Homo sapiens: one gene and its partners. The protein of the gene in region 2 interacts with the protein of the main gene of each other region in a pairwise test. Each region holds a gene or a part of one and is shown on either strand. Other genes may lie near its edges.

What was found. Proteins that work in one complex are often made in the same cells at the same time.
Region 1: the proteins of TNFSF12 (region 2) and LMNA interact in a two-hybrid assay, tested with the Homo sapiens proteins (one large-scale study listed by BioGRID).
Region 3: the proteins of TNFSF12 (region 2) and SGTA interact in binary tests that used the Homo sapiens proteins (3 or more experiments, as listed by UniProt).
Region 4: the proteins of TNFSF12 (region 2) and CDK1 interact in binary tests that used the Homo sapiens proteins (3 or more experiments, as listed by UniProt).

The regions. Positions count from the first base shown.
Region 1 is NC_000001.11:156,113,460-156,117,510, forward strand, and holds the start of LMNA (lamin), read left to right. Parts: upstream 1-1,251; 5' UTR 1,252-1,459; coding exon 1,460-1,815; intron 1,816-4,051.
Region 2 is NC_000017.11:7,552,058-7,555,219, reverse strand, and holds part of TNFSF12 (tumor necrosis factor ligand superfamily member 12 proprotein), read right to left. Parts: intron 1,634-3,162; exon of another isoform or gene 1,395-1,633; intron 1-1,394. UniProt on the Homo sapiens protein: Binds to FN14 and possibly also to TNRFSF12/APO3. Weak inducer of apoptosis in some cell types. Mediates NF-kappa-B activation. Promotes angiogenesis and the proliferation of endothelial cells. Also involved in induction of inflammatory cytokines.
Region 3 is NC_000019.10:2,756,745-2,759,273, forward strand, and holds part of SGTA (small glutamine-rich tetratricopeptide repeat-containing protein alpha), read right to left. Parts: coding exon 2,513-2,529; intron 1,039-2,512; coding exon 949-1,038; intron 714-948; coding exon 599-713; 3' UTR 593-598; intron 1-592. UniProt on the Homo sapiens protein: Co-chaperone that binds misfolded and hydrophobic patches-containing client proteins in the cytosol. Mediates their targeting to the endoplasmic reticulum but also regulates their sorting to the proteasome when targeting fails.
Region 4 is NC_000010.11:60,784,978-60,788,477, reverse strand, and holds part of CDK1 (cyclin-dependent kinase 1), read right to left. Parts: intron 2,815-3,500; coding exon 2,691-2,814; coding exon of another isoform or gene 2,679-2,690; exon of another isoform or gene 1,409-2,678; intron 419-1,408; coding exon 248-418; intron 1-247. UniProt on the Homo sapiens protein: Plays a key role in the control of the eukaryotic cell cycle by modulating the centrosome cycle as well as mitotic onset; promotes G2-M transition via association with multiple interphase cyclins.

The DNA.
Region 1 (4,051 bases), on a different chromosome or scaffold from region 2:
CGAACCCTGGGGACCTGAGTGATCTCGTTTTGTGAGAGAGCCTGGCCCCTCCCCAGAGCCAGCTGCAGAATGGACCTGGCCAGAGAGGAAAGTAGAGATGAGTATGGTGCTGGCCTTTGCAGCCAGCAAGGCTGTGGGGTCTTTGCTGTTCCTGTCCCCCACTACCTTCTTGCCCCCCACTACCTTCTTTCTGGCTGAAACCAGGATAGAGACCCAATATTGGCTGTCCAGCCCCCAGCCCTGCTTCCCCTTTCAGGCCCCTCTGGGAACCACAGAAATCTGGGACCTAGTGTCTTGGCAACGTAATGAATGCATGCACAGCTCTGGTATCTGTTTTAAATTATCCATTAAAATAAGTACAGTTCTGGGGGAAAAAAATAAGTTGACTGGGTGCGGTAAGCAGTAGAAAGGGACTGAAGGGGGAAGGAACCCAGGCAGTGCTTGGGTCCAAAGGAAGGGGACAGGAGATGGAAGGGGCAGTGCCTGGCTCCTATTCTTGGCTTTCTTTAGGGGACTTCTTTAGGGGACTGTGGCTTGTTGCTTGGGTCTAAAAACGAATGCTTGGCTTTGAAGAGAGATAGATTGGGGCAAAAGAAAGAAAAAAAGGGACCCCCCAAACTCCTTGATCCCTGGCCCCAAACTGGGGGCATAAAGGAACTCAGGTTCCAGAACTTTGCTCCCCCCAGGGAACCCAGGCATTCCTTCTCCACCCCACTCCTGGCACACTGAGATGCAGCTCTGAATGGGCTGCCCACGTGTGGAGGGGGGTTGGGGTGACTCACTATTACTACTGGGAGGACAGGGGGAGCCAGTGGTGGAAGAAGGGTGAGTCACACTGATGGGCACCAGCCTCAGCCCTCCCCCCACTTTCCTGGCTCCCAGCCCTGCCTACCTGACCCTCTCCCTTGCTTTGCGCCCACTTCCCTCTCTTTCTCCCCGACCCTTTTGCCCACCCACTCTCCCTCCTTGGCTCTGCCCTCTAGCCCAGAAGGTCTGAGGCAATGGGGGCAAGCTTGGAGCCGACAGTGCTGAGCAGGCAGGAGCCAAGAGAGGGGAAGCTTGAGCCTCACGCAGTTAGGGGTGCGCTGGAGAGGGTGGGGCCCGACTCCGCCACACCCCAACGGTCCTTCCCCCTCCTCACCACTCCCGCCCCCACCCCCAATGGATCTGGGACTGCCCCTTTAAGAGTAGTGGCCCCTCCTCCCTTCAGAGGAGGACCTATTAGAGCCTTTGCCCCGGCGTCGGTGACTCAGTGTTCGCGGGAGCGCCGCACCTACACCAGCCAACCCAGATCCCGAGGTCCGACAGCGCCCGGCCCAGATCCCCACGCCTGCCAGGAGCAAGCCGAGAGCCAGCCGGCCGGCGCACTCCGACTCCGAGCAGTCTCTGTCCTTCGACCCGAGCCCCGCGCCCTTTCCGGGACCCCTGCCCCGCGGGCAGCGCTGCCAACCTGCCGGCCATGGAGACCCCGTCCCAGCGGCGCGCCACCCGCAGCGGGGCGCAGGCCAGCTCCACTCCGCTGTCGCCCACCCGCATCACCCGGCTGCAGGAGAAGGAGGACCTGCAGGAGCTCAATGATCGCTTGGCGGTCTACATCGACCGTGTGCGCTCGCTGGAAACGGAGAACGCAGGGCTGCGCCTTCGCATCACCGAGTCTGAAGAGGTGGTCAGCCGCGAGGTGTCCGGCATCAAGGCCGCCTACGAGGCCGAGCTCGGGGATGCCCGCAAGACCCTTGACTCAGTAGCCAAGGAGCGCGCCCGCCTGCAGCTGGAGCTGAGCAAAGTGCGTGAGGAGTTTAAGGAGCTGAAAGCGCGGTGAGTTCGCCCAGGTGGCTGCGTGCCTGGCGGGGAGTGGAGAGGGCGGCGGGCCGGCGCCCCTGGCCGGCCGCAGGAAGGGAGTGAGAGGGCCTGGAGGCCGATAACTTTGCCATAGTCTCCTCCCTCCCCGGAACTGCCCCCAGCGGGTGACTGGCAGTGTCAAGGGGAATTGTCAAGACAGGACAGAGAGGGAAGTGGTGGTCTCTGGGAGAGGGTCGGGGAGGATATAAGGAATGGTGGGGGTATCAGGGACAAGTTGGGGCTGGGGCCGGCCTGAATTCGGTCAGATTGGGATTTGCCAACTATTTGGAGCCGGGGGGAGGGGCTTGAGCAAAACAGAACTAGCCCTGCCAGCTCGAAGAACTCTGGGCACCCAGGACACATCGGAGTGGCAGAAAGGGTCCTGTTAGAACTTTGTTAGCGGGCTTGGCACTGTGCTAGCTTTGCCCAAGCTGGCTCTGAACACATGATGCCCACTAAGACATAACTCTCAAGTTGGCATCTGTCCAGCGTGTTGGAGCGAGGTCAGGAAGGCAGGGCAATCCCCCTTTTCCCTCCCAAGGGCTTGGCGGTGGCCCCCCCTCAGCATGACCTTGTCCTGGGTTCTAAGGGTTGGGAAGTTCTCCCTCACTCTGCCACTCTGCGTGTCTGGGACCTTCCTTGGGCTCTGACAGGCCCACCAAAAGAGCTCCGGGAGATGAGAGATCGGCTCCCCCGCAGCTCCCACAGCCCTTGGCCTGCTTGGCCCAGGAATGCAAGGGAGGGAGGGAGGCAGAGGGCAGAGGCTCCCAGCTCAGGAAGTTGTGTTATGCCCAGGTCTGGCCGCACTCCTCCCTTGGCCCTCTGCCTAGTGTCTTCGAGGGTTGGGGGCACTGTCCTTCCCTCCTTGGGGTGAGCCACTTTCATTTTCCCAGCGGGGCCAGGCAGTCTTTGCTCGGGCCCATCCTCTTAGCTGCTGACGTTTTGATCTTTGTCTTATTGAAGTGCTGGAATACAGTGACATTTTTGAAATCCAGCCGTTGGAAGATTCAGGCCACTCCCACTTTACCCACCCCTGCCCCACCCTACCCCACCCTACTCAACTGCACCTTCTTCTTTTCTAAAAAAGCCTTTGGGAGCTTGGAAGTATAGGCCCTCTCTTCCAGCCCCATCAAAATTTGTTTCCCTTCTTCCTGCCTTCCCTTTCTCTATGCAGACCCAGGCCAAGAGCACTAAGGGTGCTTGGAGATCCGTAAAGGGCTGTTGGCTTTGACTTCTTCTCTCTCTTTTATCATCTACTCCAAACTTCTGCTCTTCCTAGAACCCTTTGCTAGGTGTGGTTTTGTTGCCCAGGCTGGAGTGCAATGGCACAATCTCGGCTCACTGCAACCTCCGCCTCCCAGGTTCAAGTGATTCTCCTGCCTCAGCCTCCCGAATAGCTGAGATTACAGGCATGTGCCACCATGCCGGGCTAATTTTGTATTTCTAGTAGAGATGGGGTTTCTCCATGTTCGTCAGGCTAGTCTTGAACTCCCAACCTCAGGTGATCCACCCGCCTCAGCCTCCCAAAGTGCTAGGATTACAGGCATGAGCCACCACGCTGGGCCCATCACCCTTCTTTCTGAAGAGTCAATGGAAGTTGTGTGTAGGAAGACAGGCTTAACGGTTTTTTTTTGAGACAGGGTCTTACTCTGTCACCCAGACTGGAGTGAAGTGGTGCGATCTTGGCTCACCACAACCTCTGCCTCCCAGGCTCAAAAGATTCTCCTGCCTCAGCCTCCTGAGTAGCTGGGATTATAAGTGTGTGCCACCACACATGGCTATTTTTTTTTTTTTTTTTTTTTTTAATTTTTAGTAGAGATGGGGTTTCACCATGTTGGCTAGGCTGGTCTCAAACTCCTGACTTCAAATGATCCACCTGCCTCGGCCTCCCAAAGTGCTGGGATTACAGGTGTGAGCTACCATGCCCGGCCATCAACCTTTATTTTGTTTTTTTGAGACGGAGTCTTGCTTTGTTGCCCAGGCTGGAGTACAGTAGTGTGACCTCAGGTCACTGCAACCTCTGCCTCCCAGGTTCAAGCCATGCTCCTGCCTCAGCCTCCCAAGTAGCTGGGACTATAGGTGCCTGCCACCACGCCCGGCTACTTTTTATATTTTTAGTAGAGACGGGGTTTCACCATGTTGGCCAGGGTGATCTCGAACTCCTGACCTCAAGTGATCTGCCTGCCTCAGCCTCCCAAAGTGTTGGGATTAG
Region 2 (3,162 bases):
GTGTTGCCAGGTATCTTGGCCACTTTTATTATTGTTCTTGTCATATTCCACTGTAATTACAAATTTTTTTTTGAGATGGAGTCTCACTCTTGTCACCCAGGCTGGAGTGCAGTGGCACAATCTCGGCTCACTGCAGCCTCCGCCTCCCGGGTTCAAGTGATTCTCATGCTTCAGCCTCCTGAGTAGCTGGGATTACAGGCATGTGCCACCAAACCTGGCTAATTTTTTTTGTATGTTCCTGTAATTACAAATTTATATGCTTGTTTCCTCTCCTAGACAGTGACTCCTTAAGAGTTGGTCTGAGGCTGGGCACAGTGGCTCACGCCTGTAATCCCAGCACCTTGGGAGGCCAAGGTGGGTGGATCACGAGGTCAGGAGATCGAGACGCTCCTGGCTAACACGGTGAAACCCCGTCTCTACTAAAACATAAAAAAAAAATTAGCCAGGCGTGGTGGCAGGCGCCTGTAGTCCCAGCTACTCGGGAGACTGAGGCAGGAGAATCACTTGAACCCGAGAAGGCTGCAGTGAGCCGAGATGGCGCCACTGCACTCCAGCTGGGGCAACAAGAGCAAAACTCCATCTCAAAAAAAAAAATGGGTCTGACCGGCTGGGCGCGGTGGCTCACGCCTGTAATCCCAGCACTTTGGGAGGCCGAGTTGGGTGGATCACGAGGTCAGGAGATCGAGACCATCCTGGCTAACACGGTGAAACCCCGTCTCTACTAAAAAATAAAAAAAAATTAGCCAGGCGTGGTGGCGGGCGCCTGTAGTCCCAGCTACTTGGGAGGCTGAGGCAGGAGAATGGCATGAACCCAGGAGGCGGAGCTTGCAGTAAGCCGAGATCGCGCCACTACACTCCAGCCTGGGCGACAGAGTGAGACTCCATCTCAAAAAAAAAAAAAAAAAAAAAAAAGAGTCTGGATATTAGTTGCTGTGGGCACCTAGCCTGGCCCCTAGCAAACAGTAGGTCTTCAATGCCTGTTGAGTCAATGAATGAATGAATGTCTGGATAATTGCCAAAATAAGTGGTCTATACAGAGGGGAGGAAGGCTGATCTGGGCATGAAGAGTAGGGAGGGCAGAGAAGAGAGGGCATTCCTAGCTACGAAGCCAGCCTAAGCAAAGGCTGCTTGTAGCCTAAGGGCATGGTGTGCCCAGGAGCACGGAGGGCTTGCCTGGTATATCACTTGTCTCCAGCCACAAACCTCACCTGGACATTCCGTCCTGCCTGGCAATCTTACATTCCCCCACGAAGCTTGCTTTCATAATCAGCAAGTTGAGATTTTGTACCATTTCTCCTCAAATCTCCTGTCTCCATCTCCCTAGTTGTCCAGAGGACCTAGAAGTCATCGAGCAAAGGTTCCCTCATCTCCCCCCAGCAAATCTACAAACCCACCTGGTCTCTTGTTCTCCTTTGACCCTCTGGTAATGGTGGGAGATGTGTCCTCTCTTCTTTCTGGAAACTTCCCTCTCCCCTTTTTGGATGTGGCCCCTGCATGGACCCCTCACCCCTGCACCAGCCACCTCGCCTTTCATGCAGACCATGTCCAGTACACAGGCACATTCTAGCTGGGTTCAAATCTTGGCTCCACCACTTAGTATCTCATGGCCTCAGACAAGTTGTGTAACCTCCATCTGTAAAATGGAGGTAATTAGAGTATCTTCCTTTTAGGGCTGTTGTGAGGATTAGATAAGACCAAACACAAGTGCCAGACACAGTGCCTATCTCAAGAAAGCCCTCAGTACATGTTAGATCAGATGAAAATAGTATTGTTCACAGAACTAAACTTTTCCTTGGTCCACACACCCCTCCACCTACTGGCCTATTTCTCTGCTCCTTGTTACAGAGAAACTTCTAAAAAGGGTTGTCCTAGGCCGGGTGCAGTGGCTCATGCTTGTAATCCCAGCACTTTGGGAGGCCGAAGCGGGTGGAACACCTGAGGTCGGGAGTTTGAGACCAGCCTGACCAACATGGAGAAACCCTGTCTCTACTAAAAATACAAAATTAGCCAGGCGTGGTGGCGCATGCCTGTAATCTCAGCTACTGGGGAGGCTGAGGCAGGAGAATTGCTTGAACCCGGGAGGTGGAGGTTACGGTCAGCCGAGATCGTGCCATTGCACTGGATCCAGCCTGGGTGACAAGAGTGAAACTCTGTCACAAAAAAAAAAAAAAAAAAAAAAAAAAAAAAAAAAAAAAAGGTTGTCCCTGCCTCCAGTTCCTTATTTCTCATTTTCTTCTCAACCCAATGCACACTGCCTTCCTGTTCTAACTATGCCACTGAAACCACCCTCTTTAAGGTCAGCAGGACTTTCACGTTACCAAACCCAGCCATCATTTCTCTGTTCTCATTTCATGTGATCTCTCAGCTGCATTCAACACAGACAGCCACATCCTCCTTGAAACAGTGGTTTCTCCGAATCCAGGATGCCACCCTCCCTGGGTTTCTTCCTCTCTCTCCAGCTTCTTTTCAGTCTCTGCTGGTTTTCCCCTCAGCTCCACTTCAAGATGCCCAAGAGTCTCAGGGCTTCATTCGTGGGGCCCTTCTTTCTCCTGGCGTCTCACCCAATCCTGTGGCTTTAAATGCCATCGATAGGCCGGGCACAAGGGCTCACACCTGTAATCCCAGCACTTTGGGAGGCTGAGGCTGGCGGATCACCTGAGATCAGGAGTTCAAGACCAGCCTGGCCAACACGGTGAAACCCTGTCTCTACTAAAAAATACAAAAATGAGCTGGGTGTGGTGGCACCCGCCTATAATCTCAGCTACTTGGGAGGCTGAGACAGGAGAATCGCTTGGACCCAGGAGGCAGATGTTGCAGTGAGCCAAGATCGAACCACTGCACTCCAGCCTGGGTGACAGAGCGAGACTCTGTCTCAAAAAAAAAAAAAAAAAAGCCATCCATATGGCCATGACTCCTGGCTTTATCCGTCCTGACCTAGCCTAAGCTAGTCGACAATGTCCAGCCATCCATTTCTGGAATTTACTTTATTGTCATTTATCCGCTTGTTTATTTTAGACTTCTCAACGTTAATAATTATCTTACATACTTCCCAACCTATTTATTCCTTGGTCAATCCCTTCTTAGGAAATGGCATCATTCTTCCCAGAGATACCCAAGTTAAAAATCTAGAAGCTGGCTGGGTGCAGTGGCTCATGCCTGTAA
Region 3 (2,529 bases), on a different chromosome or scaffold from region 2:
GGGCCCCTGGGGAAGGAAACCAAGCCAGCCACGGGCCCCTGGAACCCATGGGGGACACTGAGTGTATTTTTAAACAACTGTAAGTGCAACACCTGCTCACAGTGAGAAAAGGACAAAAAATCCCTCACAAAATGCAGGCAGAACGCTCGGGCGCAGTCAAAGGCAGGTACCCGGCTTGTCCTTTCCACCACTCGATGACCTCGCCCCCACCCCCGAGGTGGCAGCCCCGACACTGCAGAAACAAAGAGCTTCTGCAGGCGGCCTTAGGCAGGGGGGACCCCAGACACCAGCCCTTCCAGGGAGCTGTGGCTCTCCCCTAATCTCCACCCAGCGCCGATCCACAGATGGGAAAGGAGTGGGGAGCAGGACTTGGTGGCCACCTGGAAAGGGGCCCAATGCCCAGAGATGCCCCCACCTGCCTGGGCGGTTCAGGGTGATCTTCTGAGCTGGATGCACCCAGGACTCGCTGTCCAGTGTCCAGACAGGCTCCACAGCCCCCGGGCGTCACTCCTGCTGGCTGCCCTCACTGCCAGGCACTCACGTGGTGTCACTCCTGCTGGCCACCCCCCAGCCCCCGGCCCCATGCACTCACGCAGCGTCACTCCTGCTGGTCGTCGTTGCTGGCGCTGGGCGTCCGACTCCGGATCTGGCTCCTGAGCTGCTCTATCAACTCTGGGTTCTGCTGCTGCATCTGCTGGGCAAACTGCTGGCCCCTGCGGGGAAGGGCACATGGGGCTCAGCCAGGGCCAGGAGGCTGCCTGCTGCCTCCGTCCATCCCCAGCTGACCCCTCGGGCCCTCCACCCCAAAGACAGGCCTGACCCCTCGCTGGAGGACGCTGGGCCCTTCGGAGCAGGGGACGCAGCACTTTCGCTCTCCTCCTTCCCTTCCGCCTGCGAGCCCTGCCCGCCGCCCACGTCCTCCGTCCTCTTGGAAGCAGTTCCACTCACGCCTGGATGAGGCTGGCCAGGTCGTTCTGCGAGGGGCTGGTGCCGGGAGTTCCCAAGGGGTTGTTGCCACCCGAAATCATGCCGGACATGCTGCAGGAGAGAGCGCGTGACTCGCAGCCGGGACAGCCTGACCGCCACCCCCACTGCAGGCCCTCGCAGTGGCCCGGGAGAGAATCCCTCTCAGCCCTTCACCTTCCCCTGCAGGAGAGGATTCTCTCTCACCACCTGGTGGGCCTCCAGGGCCCAAACCCACCCTGTGACTTTCACCTGCTTTCCCAGAACACCCCTCTTTCTTTGGCCTAAAGAGCGTAGTTCTCAGCCAGGGGGTGATCCTGCCCCCAGAGGACCCCTGCAATGGCAGCGGACATTTGCAACAGCCATGATTGGGTTACGCCAAGACAGGGGCAGGGGGTGCTCCTGGCATGGAGTGGATGGAGGCTAGAGACAGTGCTCAGCACCCTGCAGTGCCCAGGACGGCCCTGCTCCAGAAACTGGTCCAGCTCAAATGGCCACGGTGCTGTGGCTGGGAAACCATGCTTTAAGATTTGACCGTGGGCCAGCCGCGGTGGCTCACACCTGTCATCCCTGCACTTTGGGAGGCTGAGGCGGGTGGATCACCTGAGGTCAGGAGTTCAAGACCAGCCTGGCCAACATGGTGAAACCCCATCTCTACTAAAAATGCAAAAATCAGCCGGGCATGGTGGTGGATGCCTGTAATTCCAGCTACTTGGGAAGACCCACTTGATCCCGGGAGGCAGAGGTTGCAGTGAGCCAAGATTCTGCCACTGCACTCCAGCCTGGGTGACAGAGCAAGATTCTGTCTCAAAAAAAAAAAAAGGAGAAAGAAAAAAAGATTTCACCATGAAAACAGGTGAGCAGCTCCCCAGTGCGCACAGCGCTTACTGGGGAGTGACCCTATGAGCCAGCGAGTGCACTCAGAAGTTTATATCCAAGAGAAACGAAAACAGGATTCACACAGACGATTGCACACCCGTGCTCAAGCAGCACCGTTCACAACAGACAAAAGGTAGAAACAGCCCAAATGTCCATGGATAGATGTGTGGATCAGCACAGCGTGGTCCCTCCACACTGGAATATTACTCAGCCATGAAAAGGAGCGAGGCCCTGACCCAGGCCCCAGCACACATGCACCTTGAGGACGTCACGCTCAGTGAGAGACGCCAGACACCAAAGTTCACGCAGTGTGTGATCCCATTTCTACGAAATGTCCAGGACAGGCCCATCCACAGAGACAGGAAGGGGATGCGTGGTTGTCAGGGGATAGGAGAGGGGTTGGGGAGTGACAGCTGAGGGGGAAGGGGCTTCTTTCGGAGGTGATGAAGATGGGTTGGTGCTCAATGGTGGTGACAGTTGCATGACAGTGTGATGGTGGTGACAGTTGCATGACAGTGTGATAGTGGTGACAGTTGCATGACAGTGTGAAAGTCCTTAATGCCATTAAGTTGCACACTTTAAAGTGGTTAGTTTTATGTTAAGTGAATTTACCCACAATAAAAGGAAATTTAACCACAACAAGACCCGAAGAAACCCGGTTGTCACTTACAGCTGCTGAATCTGGGG
Region 4 (3,500 bases), on a different chromosome or scaffold from region 2:
TCCTCCTGCCATGTCCCTCTAGTACCCTCTACCTTAACAACATAGCAGCTGGTAAAGAAAAAATACTTAAAGGCTTCAGTTCCATTTTCACATAGCATGCAATGAATTTGGAGCTGAGAGGCAATAAATTGATACTGCCACAGAGTAGATATCTTTTATTGAGTTATTTCTTGACTTTCACAAATACAGAAAATAATCTAGCAATCACACACATTCAAAAGCCATCAAAAACCACTATTCCACTTGCCTCATGTGTATATACTCTGATAGGTATTCCAAAAGCTCTGGCAAGGCCAAAATCAGCCAGTTTAATTGTTCCTTTGTCATCAATCAAGAGATTTTGAGGTTTTAAGTCTCTGTGAAGAACTCTTCTAGAGTGACAAAACACAATCCCCTGTAGGATTTGGTATAAATAACTCTGGAAAAAGCAAGTAAAAGTTAGAAACTTAAGCGAAGTACATGATTTTCTAAATAATCTGTTTCAAAGACAAAAAATTAGGACGCAGAGAAATAATTTAATTACTAGAGCTTTCAGGCCATTTTAGGCTAATAAGCATTTGTGGGTGGGAAGCCCATTTATATACAACATCACATTTGTATACCTAAGAAAAGAATCTTCACCTTATAGACATATCTATAGTAATGTGAACACATTTAGTCTTTAAACATTTTTGGTCCCCGATCCTTAAATTACAAATTGGTTTTCTACACAGAAGCCTCTTGATTTTTCTTCTATATACCGCTACCAACTCTATTTTGTATCTTCAATACAGTTGGCCTTTTCTATCTTTCATTTTTACATATTCATTTCCTTCTTGAAAAAATTAGATTCTAAAAGTGATGGCAAAGATATTATGATTATATATTTCAATGGATAAAATTATCATAAAATGCTGCTTAGTTCAGAGAAAAGTGCTTTACAAGACATTTGTTGCCAAAGACAATGTCATTGACATCTGAAGTAGCATGGATATTACAAAAACAAAGTACACAGAAAAATGACTTACAGTTTGAAATTGGAAAGTAATACAGATGCTCCATCTTAGAGGGACAAGTGGTGTTCAAAAAACAAAACAAAACGGATGATCCATCTGGTTAAACTCATTCTAAGCTGAAAATACCTTGTCGAAATGCATTGAACACACCTAACCTACCAAACGTAGCTAAGCGTAGCCCACCTTAATTGTGCTCAAAACACTTACATTAGCATATAGTTGGAAGTGTTGAATACCTCATTATTTATTGAATACTGTACTGAAAGTGAAAAAACAGAATGGTTGTATGGGTAAATGAAGTATGGTTTCTAGTGAATGTGCATCATTTCTGCTTCATTGTAAAACTGAAAAATTGTAAGTAAAACCATTGTTGCCTGTACATAAAACCAGTTAGAACAACTGGCTAGCCATTTGGAAAAAGATAAAGCAGAATCTGTATCCCAGTTTTTAAGTCAAAATAAATCTTAATACAGAATTTAAGACAAAAAAAGTATGTGTGGAAGACAGGACTTACTAAAACTACCAGAAAAATACTGACATGTATTATTCTAATACATTCGATCTTTGAGTGAGGAAGACTTAAGCAAGACATAAAAGCAGAAAGTCCAAAAGTCATGCAAGATTGTTAAAGAACGTATCCTAACGAAAATATAGGCGGTTTATAATAGCTAAATATGAAGTGTTAAATTGTCATGAAATATAAAATTAAAACAATCTTAATATGCCTTTTTCACATAGTTAACAGATTGATAAAACCAAGTTTTGGCAATGATGTACTAAAACAATAAGTATTACACACCATGAGTATTTAAGAGTAAATTGCTACAAGTTTTTTAGGGGGCAACCGGCAATATCTATCAAAATGTAAATAAACATCTTCAATCCATCATTCCCATTCTAAAAATTTATCCTATAAAGTTGCATACGAAGATAAATATCTATAAGGACATTCAGTGCAGTACTGTTAATAAGAGCAACAATAACCAAGTTGGAAAATAATTTAAATGTTCATCAATATGGAAGTGGTTTAATTATATCAAAAATGTAAATAGACATAGGTAGATCTACGTCTTGATAATGTTTTACACAAAAAAGGGAAAATATGTATATATACATATGCAAATAAGTCCACCTTGTGTAAAAAAAAAAATCTTTATATACATACAAAGTGAACATACATACAAGTGTAAGATTACAAATAAAACTAACAGCGCTACCTCTGCAGAGTGGTTTGGTAGAACTGGTGCAAGAATAAGACACTTTTATATACTTCAGTACTTAAAACTATACAATTTTATAATTTACCTGAAATATAATAAATGTCTACAATAAATTGACCAAAACATGTTCAAAACTGGAATAAAACACCTACAACCACCACTCTGCCCTAGGCTTTCATTACTTTGTTTTACATGTATCTGACAGCCAAAGAAAGACCAGACTACCCTAGCTTCCAACAATACCTACCAGTTCTATGTTATCTCAGGCACTAATTTTTACTTACTAGAAACACTATCTGGTAATAACATGGGTATCTCTAACCTGTATAAACTAACCATGAGGGAGAAAAATGAAATACTTTTTCTTATTCTAACACTTTTTCCAAGCATATTCCCACAAAATGCAGGGACTTCTATATATAGTCCCTTTATATCCACAGTGCATAAATATTAATAAAATTAGTTAAGCTTTTACCTTAACAAGTGAAGAATCCATGTACTGACCAGGAGGGATAGAATCCAAGTATTTCTTCAGATCCATGGAAAGAAACTCAAAGATGAGATATAACCTGGAATCCTGCATAAGCACATCCTGAAGACTGGGGAAAAAAAATATATGAGAGAAGAATCCAGCAAACATTTTTGACCTCTGTTTCACAAAATAAAACTCCTTCCATAATTTCAGTTGCTATAATAAAAACTGGGGAAGACGTAGTAGCTTCCCTAATGGAAGAGACTCAAAACTCAAATTTAAGAAAGGAATCTCAGGGCAACTATTTAAAATTAAGCCTTGTACAGGAGGTGCTTATTTATAAGGAGCCTGTATTCAAAAGAACATATCTAGGTTGGCTACTAATTGCTGAGAGCTTATTTTTTCACTGAAGTGAATTATACAAATAAATTTTAAAGTGGTATCTGACCTTAAAAGCTACTTCCAATCTCTAGCCCCAGCCAAGTACAATTAGATTTTAACTTGGACTGTTAGGAAGACAGGTCTCCAAAAACACCCAATGCAAATACTTTAAGGAAAAAAAATCTTTTTCATTTGACCTAGCTACTTTTCTTAAGACTCTAACTAAAGGGTCTTCAGGAACTAGAGCTCCCCAAGTAGGAGAGAGTTGACAAAGCTCTATGAAAACGGCTTTACTCCCATGGCCAATTTACCTTGCTATTCTAGGCCCAAATATTAATCTACATCACCCAGCTCCTCCAACTCTGTTCCTGCTTTAACAGCCTGTTCTCTTTTACATATGTGCGGCATTCTCAACTACCAAAAATAGGGTTC